4 separate regions of the Homo sapiens genome follow, and all the other regions are reported to be linked to region 1. Evidence: microRNA targets listed by miRTarBase, many of them from high-throughput screens and not tested one by one. Region 1 holds a microRNA gene; each other region holds the end of a gene's coding sequence.
What was found. The annotated mature microRNA hsa-miR-5189-5p reads UCUGGGCACAGGCGGAUGGACAGG and lies in region 1 at 1,702-1,725, shown strand. An mRNA with a match to its seed (bases 2 to 7 or 8) in the 3' UTR can be bound and repressed. Matches are read on the target gene's strand: a 7mer-m8 pairs with bases 2 to 8, a 7mer-A1 pairs with bases 2 to 7 and ends in A, and an 8mer does both.

Region 1 (3,072 bases):
ACCAGGAGCCGCAGCAAACAAGCAGGGGGTACAGCATCTGTCCCCATGGCCCTGGTTCTCACACACATCCCAGAGTCTCAGGTCTCAGTTTCCTCATCTGTCAAATAGGGCCGACACCGCTAAGCCTGCCCTGCAGGCCATGGCCAACCCCCCTGAGGTCTCCCCACCCCTCCCAGCGGTGCCCACCCAGGGCTTCTCGAGGAAGGAGCTCAGCACCCGCCCCAGTGACACTTCACTTCTCTGGGCTTTGCTGCCTTTTCCTATAAAATGGGGTGCCAGTCGCCCTCTCAGAGTCCTTTCAAGGAGCTGATGGTGTAGACCGCGAGACCTGCCTTGCAGGGCACATGCGCAGCTGCTCCTGTCATGCTGGGACCTCCGGACCCCGGGCCTCGCAGCTGCCTTGGATCCCCTCCCTCCTCCAGTCACGGGCTCTGGGCTGGCTGCTGGGCGTGTTGGGCACAGCGGGCCCTAAGCTGACCCGTGCCCTTTGTGGCTGGGACCTGAGATGGGGAGGCCCCCACCCCCTAGTTCCATGGCTTTGGGAGGTGGGGGTGGGGTGTTTTCTACTCTACCACCCTACAACGAAAAAGAAGAAAAGAGAACTTGATAAAAAAGGGCGATGCGTGCTGTGCGGTGGAGGAGGTGCTATCGCCGTTATCTATCTGCTTGCTCGAGCTGAGCGGCCCCCCTTCCCCTTATCTCACCCCACCCTAATGCCAGGAACAAAAGTGAGAACACACTCTCAACCCGCACACCCGCGAGCCCCCCACCGCCCCTCACACACCCGCGAGCCCACCGCCCCTCACGCCCCCGCGAGCCCACCGCCCCGACCCACCCGCGAGCCCACCGGCCGCTGACGCACCTGCGAGCCCACCGCCCCTCACGCACCCGCGAGCCCACTGCCCCTGACCCACCCGCGAGCCCACAGGCCCTGACGCACCCGCGAGCCCACCGCCCCTCAAGCACCCGCGAGCCCACCGCCCCTCAAGCACCCGCGAGCCCACCGTCCCGACGCACCCGCGAGCCCACTGCCTGCGGCGCACAGAGCCACCAGATCTAGAGGGAGAGCTGAGCACTCGGGGTGCTCTGAAAGTCATCATCATCATCATTTTGCAAAGAAAGCCCCCAAATAGCCCTCCCTGAAACAAGGCAGCCAAAAATAAGAAGTCGCTCTCAACAGGCCCCCACAGGAGAAAAGAGGCCGGCCTTGGAGAGGGGTTGGGACTTGGGGCCAGGTCCCAGCTGTGCCGGCCTCTTGGCTGTACGACCTTGGACCAGTATCTTTCCCACTCAGAGTCATCCCTGAATGGATGTCAGGGAGCCTTCGAGGAAAGGGGAGAGCCTGCACTGTAACTGAAGCCCCCCACCAGCCCCATGCAGCTTTCTGACCCTAGACTTGGGGCTGGGACCAGTCACCCAGAATCTGATACCCCCAGGGCCCCGCCCCCCAGAGCCCCACCCCCATGGCCAGGGCACCACTGTCCTAACCAGCCTGTTGGCAGCCAATGGAAATGGGGTATGCAAATGAGCAGGGGTGAGGCCCAGGGATTGGCTGAGCTGCTGTGTGGGGGCAGGGCCTCCTCCAGGGGCTGCCCTTGACCTGGGGGAGTAGTTCCCATCCTGGACCCTGCCCCAGGACGGGAGACCTCTGCCACCACCACCACCGGCTCTGGAAGGGCCCGCCTTTTAGGGGCCTCGCTGTCTGGGCACAGGCGGATGGACAGGCTGGCCTCTGGATGACCTGCCAACCGTCAGAGCCCAGACCCACGTGGCCTCAGTTGGGGACCAGGACCCAGGAGTTCCCGAGAGGAGTGCAGCCAGCAGCCACTCCCAGATGGGAACAGCGAGTTTCACAACCCGGCAGGGACGGCCCTGGGGCCAGCCAGCCTCCCACCCCCATGTCTGGGCCCACTCCAGACCCTCCTGCAGGCTGCCCCCCACCGCTCCACCCTCTCCCCGCGCTGACTTCCATCCGGAACCTCATTCTGCCAAGCTTCTGAAGTGCCGGCCGGGCCAGGGACGTGGCACCATCTTAATGAATGACAGTCCCAACCCCTTTGCCCACCCTCAGCCTCCCCATCTGTAAAACCGGAAGGCGGTCTAGTAGGTCTGCCTCCCAGGATGGTTTCTGGGCTCTTCAGCAAGCCCCTTGCCGGCCTGGGCCTCAGTTTCCCCTTCCACACCATGAGGCTGAGGTGGCAGGTTCTCTGGGGGTCCTCCTGTCTGTGGCTGTGGCATAGCCTGGAAACCTGGGGTCTTCCAGATTTCCCATTGTCAGAAATTCATGTGCCAGGAGACCATGTCTACAGGGGGCTTAGGACACCTTAGGGGGCATGCACCTGTGTTCTGCATCCACCCACACTGCACAGTGGGTCTTGCTGGCAAGACCAGGATGAGGCAGGCTCCGCCGGCCTGAGACCTGGCTGGAGGCCCTGTCAGCTCCCACGGCACCTGAAAATCAGCCACAGGTGTGGGTGTTTGTCAAAAATGTGTAAGTGGAAAATAGTGGCGGGGCGAGGAGAGAAAGAGTCTGGGCTGAGATCTAAGGAGAGGAAGTAGGGAGGGGCCGTCCGACCAGAACCAGACATCACCTTGGCCAGGGCCCCACCCCCTAACGTGGGGTGCAGTGCCTCTCACGTGGTGAGGGTCAGAGGTGCGTGCCCAGCCCAGAGGATCTCCCCACGCAGCCCTCCCAGTCTGCAGAGGGGTCTCCACACATGCAGGCAGCTCTGTCCTCTCCCAGGACAGCTTGGGGCATACAGTAGGTGCTCCATAAATACTCCCCAGCTGATTTCTGGATCTGCTCCCTGTGCCTGGCTGTGTCCCCAGAGGCAAAGCAAGCAGAAGGAAAAAGGAAACGGAGAAAAAGCCAGGGCCTCCAGAGCCAGCATTGTCCTGGGCAAAGGCCCCTCCCGTGTAGGAGCATCGCCTGTGGAGAGCCACGGTCCTTGTCCCTGTGCTGGGGCTGTGACTCACTCCTGCGGGGTCCTTGCTGTCAGGGCCACCCCACCTGTCCTGGGGACAGGGCTGCTGGACGGGTTGGGGCGGGCAGCCTCTGGATGCCCACGGGTG
Region 2 (3,072 bases), not on the chromosome of region 1:
CTTTCAACATGAATTTTTAGATTCTATAACATTAATTTAGAGGATACCACACCAATAAGAACTTAAAAACTGATGTGTTGGGTTTATTTCACAGTCCATGTCTACAAATAAAACATTTACCTGTATTAATAATTTGTAATAAATTTATTAATACACTGTATTAATAATTTGTAATAAATTTATTAATACACTGTATTAATATTGCCTATTTGTTGGTATAAATCCAATGTTCTGGGTTATTCCACAATAATAGTTGCTAACACAGTCCCAATGCTGAGACAGAGGTTATTTTATATAGTTAAAAATAGAAAAGTTATCTTGCAGTAGATTAGGATCTAATTTATAAATATATACAGTCTCTGGCTTTTATTCTATTATGTTTTGCTTTGGCTACATGCAGAAAGCATTTTATTCCTATTGTTCTTGACTTCGTCTGATGCACAGGTATTCTAGTTGGTACCTTCAGGCTTTATTTTACCCAACTATGGGGAATAAGATCTTTGATTATGCTGCCTCTCTTTACAGCTACTTCGCCTATTACTTTTCCAAAGCTTGCTGAAAAGAGGTGGCAGGGTAGAAAACATGTTGCGAATGTTTTTTTTCCTTAGGTAAAACACCACCAACAATTTTTCAATCATAAAAAAGATCAGGATTTCCCTCTACCACACAAAAACACTTAGACTGCTATGGTGTCTCAAAATAAATGTGTTGCATTCATCACTTTTTACCACTGATAACTATTTCTAAGAAGGTGATTCATATTAGAAAAATATAACATGTTTCATTTCTGTGCCAACATACAGGAGACTATTGCAGGTGGCATTTAGGCAGCTTCAAATGCCACCTCAGCTGCACACAGCCATGCCTGACTTCCACACAACACACACCACATACTCATCTGTGCCTTTAGGGCTTCAGCTGGCCTCGAAGTTCACATTTGAGATTATTATAAACCAACAGGCTCTCAAACTTGAGTGCATATCAAAATCACCTGGAGGGCTTGTTAAAAACAGAACTGGGCCCTACTCCCAGGGTTCCTGTTTCCTGAGTCCAGGGTGGGACTAGAGAATTTGCATCTCCAACAAATTCCCAGGTGACGCTGATGCTACTGGTCTGAGGACCACACTTTGAGAACCACTGCCATAAACCATCCTCGCTGAGCCACCCTAAGATGATTTAGATGCTACGAAATGGGTTACCCAACAGACAGGATGGATTCTGTTTCCACAGAGCTCCCAGTTTCCACACTAGAGAACAGATCAGCACAGATCATTTCATATTCTTTCACAGATTCTTCTGCTTCTCCATCAAGTATGTGCCCATACTTGATAACCTGGTGTTCGGCCCTCTGAAAACATTTCTTTTTTTTTTCTCCCGTGTCATTCTCTCTTACTGGAGTTCAGAGAAATGGTTAATCCTGAGAGAGGAAACCAAGGACTGAGTTTTGTTAGTCCTGGCAAAAATTCCAAGACATTCCTAGGCACAGACTGGTCAAGGACAACTAGGCCACTGCTTCTGAGAGGAAATGGTACTTACTGGTACAAAGCTAACTTTGTTTTTAAAAAATAATGGCAAATCCTTAACCATGAAATATTGAAAATAAAATAAAATAAATGACAGACTGTCCCACAGAATGGAGGGAACAGAGGGGGATGTGTGTTTCTTCACTCCTCAACTCCCCCAACAAAATGTCAGTCTTAAATTCTAATTTCAAGAAACAATGAAAAAAGAAACCTCAAAGCTTCTAGACTGTGTCCTGGCTCTTGGTTCATCTGCCCTCAGCAACATCACAACATTAAAAGGAAACAACCCATTATTCTTCCATATTCCTCTCCCAATAATTCAATATCCATGTCCTAGATAATACTGCTCTCATACACTTGGTTTATCATGACTATTTATAAAATTTCAGGGCATGAAGCTGGTGATTTTCTTTCTTCAAAAAGGTAATACTGTGATGTGGCTCACACCTGGAATCCTAGCACTTTGGGAGGCTAAGGAGGGCAGATCACTTGAGGTCAGGAGTTCTTGACCAGCCTGGCCAACATGGTGAAACTCCATCTCTACTAAAAATATAAAAAAATTAGCTGGGCATGGTGGTGCATGCCTGTAATCCCACCTACTTGGGAGGCTGAGGCAGGAGAATTGCTTGAACTTGGGAGGCAGAGGTTGCAGTGAGCTCAGATCGGGACACTGCACTCCAGCCTGGGCAACAGCATGAGACTCTGTCTCAAAAAAAAAAAGATAATACTGTGATGAAGGAAGAGGCGATTTTTGACCTCACACTGGAAACAGGGCCCAAGCACAGGTCTGGGATTAGTGTAGTCAATTCCAGGGCAGATGGTGGAGGAGACATTGACATGAGTGATGATGTCACCAAAGCCTCCCTGCCCTCCCAGGTGCTCCAGAGACACTTCTCAGCCTATAAAACAAAGGGCTGAGGAAAAAATGATGAGCCTCAGTCCACCTGCGTCATGCTCTAGTGAATTATCGTGTGATGTGTCACAGTTATTTTCCTCCCAAGTGGCTTTGGGAGAACCCACTCCAAAGGTGCCTAGACCTTCTCCATCTCGATCTGCTGGTGGTAGTGCCGAGCCTGCCGCTGGCCAACATTCAGCTTGTACACAGAGCTCTTGTGCTGGCACTTGCGGTAGCCCCACACCATCCCCACACCTGCCAGGAGCAGCAGTAGGCACAGGACGGTGACAATGGTGGCGATCACAGGGCCTCTGCTGAGGCCAGGACATCCGTCCCCCACACACGACTCCAAGGTGGGATGAAGCTCCTCACTTGCACCTGGCCCGGGGCCTTCCTGTCCAAAGAAGTCTTCAGACAGCAGGTATGGGAAGCTATCCTGGATCTCAGGAACAGTGGTTTCTACTGGAGGCTGGGTGGTTGCCATGATCGTTGAGGGGATGTGGTTAGGTGTCTGCTTGACAGTGTTCACTGTTAATATCTCCAGGGTGGAGCTGGTGAGCTCATAGGACAGGGTGGCCATGGGAGATTCCTCTGTGATGAATCTCCAGGGTAGAGTTGACTGGTACTTCGTCAAGTCACCATCCCCAATGCCCT
Region 3 (3,072 bases), not on the chromosome of region 1:
TGCTGGCAGGTACAGGTGCCAGTTTGTGACGGATGAAAGCACCGACAGCCCACGCGTCTTCATCATGGAGGCCTGTGCCCCAGACTGTGCCCAGCACAACAGCTGGGCGGCAAGGGTGGGCCAGGGTCGAGCAAATGACACGTTCCCTTTGGCTAAGGAAGACACCCCAGAAGCAAAATGCTCCATGCGACAGCCAGGCATTCAGGCTACAAGCTCGGTGGCGGGGAGGCAGCCGGGAGCCTTCTCAGAGGAGAAGGGTCCCGTGATCATTCCACAGATGCTTTCAGAGCTCTGGGCTCAGGGTAACCGACCAATTATGGTGCTGCCAGAGGGCCTGCATTTACTATACACACGTCACAAAATCAGGCTTCCCCGGGAGGAGCCATCGGACTCTGTGCAGAGGGCCCATGTGACAATATAAAAGTGATTTCTGGCCGGGCGCGGTGGCTAACGCCTAATCTCAGCACTTTGGGGAGGCCGAGGCAGGTGGACGATGAGGTCAGGAGTTCGAGAGCAGCCTGGCCAGTATGGTGAAACCCCGTCTCTACTAAAATAAAATACAAAAAAGATTTAGCCAGGCGTGGTGGCACACGTCTGTAGTCCCAGCTACTGGGGAGGCTGAGGCAGGAAAATCGCTTGAACCCGGGAGATGGAGATTGCCATGAGCCGAGATCACGCCACTGCACTCCAGCCTGGGCAAAAGTGATTTCTATGCAAAGCAGGTTTTAAGAATATTGCACCAAGGAAGCCATAGCTTTGCACAACTCCATGGAATAACCAAGTTTTTTAGTGAACCACAAGAGGGAGCTGTTGGTTAACTTTGGAGAGCCCACTGGCTGATGGGTGAGGAACTGAAGGAAGCGCTCTGATGATTAAGTTTTGGCCACTGGGAAGGAGTCACTTGTTTCTAAGAGAGTCTATTTCAGGTTTTAAGAAATGAAAAGTCACAAATGACCCTGAAAATTCCTGAGATAGGGGCTCCCAGAGCCAGAGGGCTCACTAGGTTCTGGGGATTTTTGGACGTATCCACGGCTATGTCCTGGATTAGACCAGGGCAAGGCACCCTTTGACTCAGCACAGTGGGTGATAACCCCATGGACACGGGGCAGTGTCTGGAGACATCCTTGGTTGCCACGAATGGTGGGAGTGCTGGCATCTGGTGGGCAGAGACCAGGGACACTGGAACATCCTGTGATGCTCTGGGCAGCTCCTTCCCCTGAAGAATGATCTCGCCCGGTATGTTCACAGTGCTGAGGGTGACAGTCCCTAACCTCCATCAAAGGAGCAATTTTCCCTCCAGGTGGGAACGGCCTCTCCTGGCTGTGGTGAGAGGGGCTGGTCTGGAAGTTTCTCTCCAGGTGGGAAAGGCCTCTCCTGGCTGTGGTGTGAAGGGCTGGTCTGGAAGCTTCTCTCCAGGCAGGAACGGCCTCTCCTGGCTGTGGTGTGTGGGGCTGGTCTGAAAGTTTCTCTCCAGGCAGAAAAGGTCTCTCCTGGCTGTGGTGTGAGGAGCTGGCCTGAAGCTTCTCTCCAGGCGGGAAAGGCCTCTCCTGGCTGTGGTGTGAGGGGCTGGTCTGGAAGTTCCTCTCCCGGTGGGAAAGGCCTCTTCTGGCTGTAGTGAGAGGGCTGGTCTGGAAGTTTCTCTCCCGGTGGGAAAGGCCTCTCCTGGCTGTGGTGTGAGGGGCTGGTCTGGAAGTTTCTCTCCCGGTGGGAAAGGCCTCTCCTGGCGGTGGTGTGAGGGGCTGGTCTGGAAGTTTCTCTCCAGGTGAGAAAGGCCCCTCTTGGCTGTGGTATGAGGGGCTGGTCTGGAAGTTTCTCTCCAGGTGGGAAAGGCCTCTCCTGGCTGTGGTGTGAGGGGCTGGTCTGGAAGCTTCTCTCCAGGTGGTAAAGGCCTCTCCTGGCTGTGGTGAGAGGGGCTGGTCTGGAAGTTTCTGTCCAGGTGGGAAAGGCCTCTCCTGGCTGTGGTGTGTGAGAGGCTTGTCCGGAAGTTTCCAGGCGGGAAAGGCCTCTCCTGGCTGTAGTGAGAGGGCTGGTCTGGAAGTTTCTCTCCAGGCTGGAAAGGCTTCTCTTGGCTGTGGTGTGAGGGGCTGGTCTGGAAGTTTCTCTACCGGTGGGAAAGGCCTCTCCTGGCTGTGGTGAGAGGGGATGGTCTGGAAATTTCTCTCCAGGTGAGAAAGGCCCCTCTTGGCTGTGGTATGAGGGGCTGGTCTGGAAGTTTCTCTCCAGGTGGGAAAGGCCCCTCCTGGCTGTGGTGTGTGAAGGGCTGGTCTGGAAGCTTCTCTCCAGATGGGAAAGGCCTCTTCTGGGTGTGGTGAGAGGGCTGGTCTGGAAGTTTCTGGATGCTCTCAGCATCTATCAGGGAGAGCAGGTGCCCCCATGACATCTCTCTGCACGGGCAGGGTGTCTACTGTCCGGAAGAAGCCCCTCCCCAGGTGAAGTGAGGGTTGGGCCACACCCTCTTCCTCATATTCTAAGTGTCCTCAGAGAATACATTTCTGCAGGTGTCATTATGTATCTGTGTGTCCTCAGCCCCAGATGGGCCCAGACAGGCCTTTGGGCCAGGGATTCCAGAGTCTGCATCAGGGGTCCTTGGCCTGAGGCTCGGACCCCTCAAGACGTCCCTCCTTGGGGAGAAAGATCCATGAGGCATCGAGCCAGGGCTCCAAGCCAAATGAAATGCAAACTCACAGAGACGTGTTTCCAAGACGGGAATGCCTAATTTTCTCAGGTGATACTCATTTATGCTTTTAGGGCACATTTCTATTCTTTCTCTGTCCCTCTCAGAAGAGCCTAGAGATGCCGCTGTCCTCTCCGTCCTCGCTGCCTCTCAGCACTGCAGGAGGGAAGGTGGAATTCACACCCAGACCCAGGGCTTCAGGTCTTGTCCCACCGACTGGTCTTAAACTACAAGTTGCTTCTTCTCTTTAGCATCTTCTTTGAGTTCCCACTGTCCCCAGCTTCACTTTCTTGCTGACTCAGCCTTTTGCTGCTTAAAACAGAGAAGAAAGGCAGCCAGTTAGAACGCTGACTCCATGCCCATCATGATGCCATAACTTACCCAATCGGATTAAATGA
Region 4 (3,072 bases), not on the chromosome of region 1:
TCCTTTCACCTACCGGGGCCTGCCCAAGCACACCTATGCCTTGGTAACATGTGGACTGGTGTGGGCAACAGTTTTCTTATATATGCTGCCATTTTTCATACTGAAGCAGGAATATTATCTTGTTCAGCCAGACATCACCACCTGCCATGATGTTCACAACACTTGCGAGTCCTCATCTCCCTTCCAACTCTATTACTTCATCTCCTTGGCATTCTTTGGATTCTTAATTCCATTTGTGCTTATCATCTACTGCTATGCAGCCATCATCCGGACACTTAATGCATACGATCATAGATGGTTGTGGTATGTTAAGGCGAGTCTCCTCATCCTTGTGATTTTTACCATTTGCTTTGCTCCAAGCAATATTATTCTTATTATTCACCATGCTAACTACTACTACAACAACACTGATGGCTTATATTTTATATATCTCATAGCTTTGTGCCTGGGTAGTCTTAATAGTTGCTTAGATCCATTCCTTTATTTTCTCATGTCAAAAACCAGAAATCACTCCACTGCTTACCTTACAAAATAGTGAAATGATCTTAGAGAACAAGGACAGCCATCACAGAGAACGTCTGTTTTCAAGAACAACATAAGCATAGTGCAAGGAGCTCCATTTCCGAGCTCCTAAGAAATATGCTTCAAAGGTCAAACATTACAAAAGCATTAGTAGTTTGTTTGTTTGTTTTTGAGACTGAGTCTCACTTTATCACCCAGACTGGCGTGCAGTGGCACTATCTTGGCTCATTGCAACCTCTGCCTCCCAGGTCAGCCTCCCAAGTAGCTGGGATTACACCACCATGCCCAGCTACTAAAAATACTTGTATTTTTAGTAGAGACGGGGTTTCACCATGTTGACCAGGCTGGTCTTGAACTCCTGACCTCAAGTGATCTTCCGGCCTCAGCCTCCCAAAGTGCTGGATTACAGGCGTGAGCCACTGAGCCAGCCAGCATTAGTAATTTTTAAAAACACTTTATCAGTATTTTAAAAATGTTAATGCAGGAGAAAAGATATCACAACTCTATGGAAAATGACATTTCCATTTGCCTTATTGCTACTTCAAGCTCTTTAAATCACCATCTTCCCTATTTCTGTGAGTGGTATTGCCATCCTTGACATTTGACATCATTTTTTATTCTTTGGTCTCTTTTGACTCTCATGCTGGTGGCTGCCTCATCAACTGATTCTATCTTTGTAGGGTCCCTCACCAGGGTCTTTTATCTAGTTTCACCTTTGCCTTCTTTTTTCCTTTTTTTAATAGAGACAGTGTCTCGCTTCGTCACCTGGCTGAAGTGCAGTAGCCTGATCATAGCTCACTTCAGCCTCCAACTCCTGGGCTCAAGCAATCCTGCTGTCTCAGCCTCCCAAGTAACTAAGACTACAGGCATGCACCACCATACCCAACTAATTTTATTTTTTATTTTTTGCAGAGATGGAGTCTCACTGTTGCCCAGGCTGGTCTTGAACTCCTGGTCTCGAGTGATCTTCCTATCTCAGCCTCCCAAAGTGCTGGGACTACAGGCATGAGCCACTACGTCCAGGCCACCTCTACCTTCTAACCATTCTCTCCACTGCCAGCCTACCCTCCACCACTTCACAAGTCCTGCCAGATTAATCTTCCTTAGATATCAGTTAGGATACATCACTAAAACATTTCCACTAACTCCACTGTTTCTATAATAAATCATAAATCTTTAGCCTGGCATTCAAGGCTAACTTGCTAATCACACTTCCCATTAAACCTTGCTTATGATATAGGCACCAACCAAACCTCTTGCTCTGCTATATCTCCACTCTGCCTCAGACTGAAAAGCTAGTCCTAACGTCTTTGCCTTAATTCTGTTCATTTTTTCAAGTCCTTGAAGGACCATTCTTCCCTGATTCTCAGGCTAGAAGTGTCACTTTTCTTATCTGTACTTCCAAAGCACTTTCGTATATTTTTATTATGGCATTTATATATAGTTCATTTATATTTAAATTTTAATTCCATGAACAATCAAGTACCAAGTATAATGGAGAAGGTGCTCATCCTCTGCCTTCCTTGAGCTTCTGGGTGATGCCAGGCCCAAGTCTTTGTGGCACCCAGCTCCATGCTTTGAATACTATGTGGCTGAATGAATTTTTAAAATCTCAAAGCAGTTAAACAGCAGGAAAGCCCATTAACTTCGTACTGAAAAAGCAACATACTGTGATGATACGGGATGACATCATTTCAGGTTGGGCATACAAAAAAGTAAGGAAGCTAAACTAAGACTATACTCACCAGGCCATTTAGAAGTTTTAAATAATGCCTCCACTATTTTTTTTCTTAGACATAGCTTTTAATGGGGAAATGGAATTTTGTTATTAATACCCATTATATTCCTGTAAGTAAATGACTATTTTTCCCTTAACTCAGTGATTAGACAGGAAGGAAGACATTAGTGATTAGACAGGAGGGAAGATATTAGTGATTAGACAGCAGGGAAGATATTAGTGGTAAAGAGTGAATGATAGTAGTGAATATAAATGGGGCTGAGGAAACTTTAAGCATAAAAGATTCCTGAGATGACTTTACAAGTCTGTACGAATCTGCCTTGACTGTATATTTCATACTGCCCAACAAAACAATAAAAAACAATTTTAAATGCATATTTTTAAATGTACACAGTTTTCTATTTCATCAGACTTAAGTAAAAAGCTTCCACATGAAGACCCTTTATAATATGTGTGTGGTTATGCAAAGAGCAAAACTCAGGTAAACACTAAAGTGAGAATGAAAAACAAACCTAAAGTAAGTTTCAAGAAGATAGAAACTTAAATGGAAGGAGCTGACTTCTGAAAACTAAGTCATCAATTACAACACAGTTTTACCTAAGGAAAAAATACAGCAATATTCGTTAAAAGCACACAGTTTTTATGGTATATACAAGGAGCAAAACAGAACTTTTTGGTGGAGTATAACTCATATGTTCACAAGCAAAACCTTCAATTGTAAAATAGCACACACCACCCAGTGAACAGACATAGAAAAAGTGTTAAAGTCAACATGACCATTACTCAAGTCTCTTTCCAAGAGGCAAAAGGAA

Region 2: miRTarBase lists SUSD5 as a target of hsa-miR-5189-5p. Seed matches in the 3' UTR shown: 7mer-m8 at 2,206-2,212 and 7mer-m8 at 2,088-2,094.
Region 3: miRTarBase lists EVC as a target of hsa-miR-5189-5p. Seed matches in the 3' UTR shown: 8mer at 1,199-1,206, 7mer-m8 at 693-699 and 7mer-A1 at 291-297.
Region 4: miRTarBase lists F2RL2 as a target of hsa-miR-5189-5p. Seed matches in the 3' UTR shown: 7mer-m8 at 805-811 and 7mer-m8 at 1,452-1,458.

Annotation. Positions count from the first base shown.
Region 1 is chr16:88,467,242-88,470,313 of GRCh38, forward strand. It overlaps MIR5189 (microRNA 5189), which reads left to right and starts at 1,677; the gene lies at 1,677-1,790. The region is part of intron 1 of ZFPM1 (zinc finger protein, FOG family member 1); the gene reads left to right.
Region 2 is chr3:33,150,188-33,153,259 of GRCh38, forward strand. SUSD5 (sushi domain containing 5) reads right to left here. Exons shown (of 5, transcript NM_015551.2): 5 at 1-3,072. The coding sequence ends at 2,555. Among named protein-coding and RNA genes, the nearest start is that of CRTAP, 38 kb to the left of the region's middle. RefSeq lists an enhancer at 2,628-3,072.
Region 3 is chr4:5,810,867-5,813,938 of GRCh38, reverse strand. It overlaps EVC (EvC ciliary complex subunit 1), which reads right to left. Exons shown (of 21, transcript NM_153717.3): 21 at 1-2,986. The coding sequence ends at 2,902. Among named protein-coding and RNA genes, the nearest start is that of CRMP1, 81 kb to the left of the region's middle. RefSeq lists an enhancer at 908-957.
Region 4 is chr5:76,615,045-76,618,116 of GRCh38, reverse strand. F2RL2 (coagulation factor II thrombin receptor like 2) reads left to right here. Exons shown (of 2, transcript NM_004101.4): 2 at 1-2,635. The coding sequence ends at 535. The region is part of intron 13 of IQGAP2 (IQ motif containing GTPase activating protein 2); the gene reads right to left. Among named protein-coding and RNA genes, the nearest start is that of F2RL2, 6.8 kb to the left of the region's middle.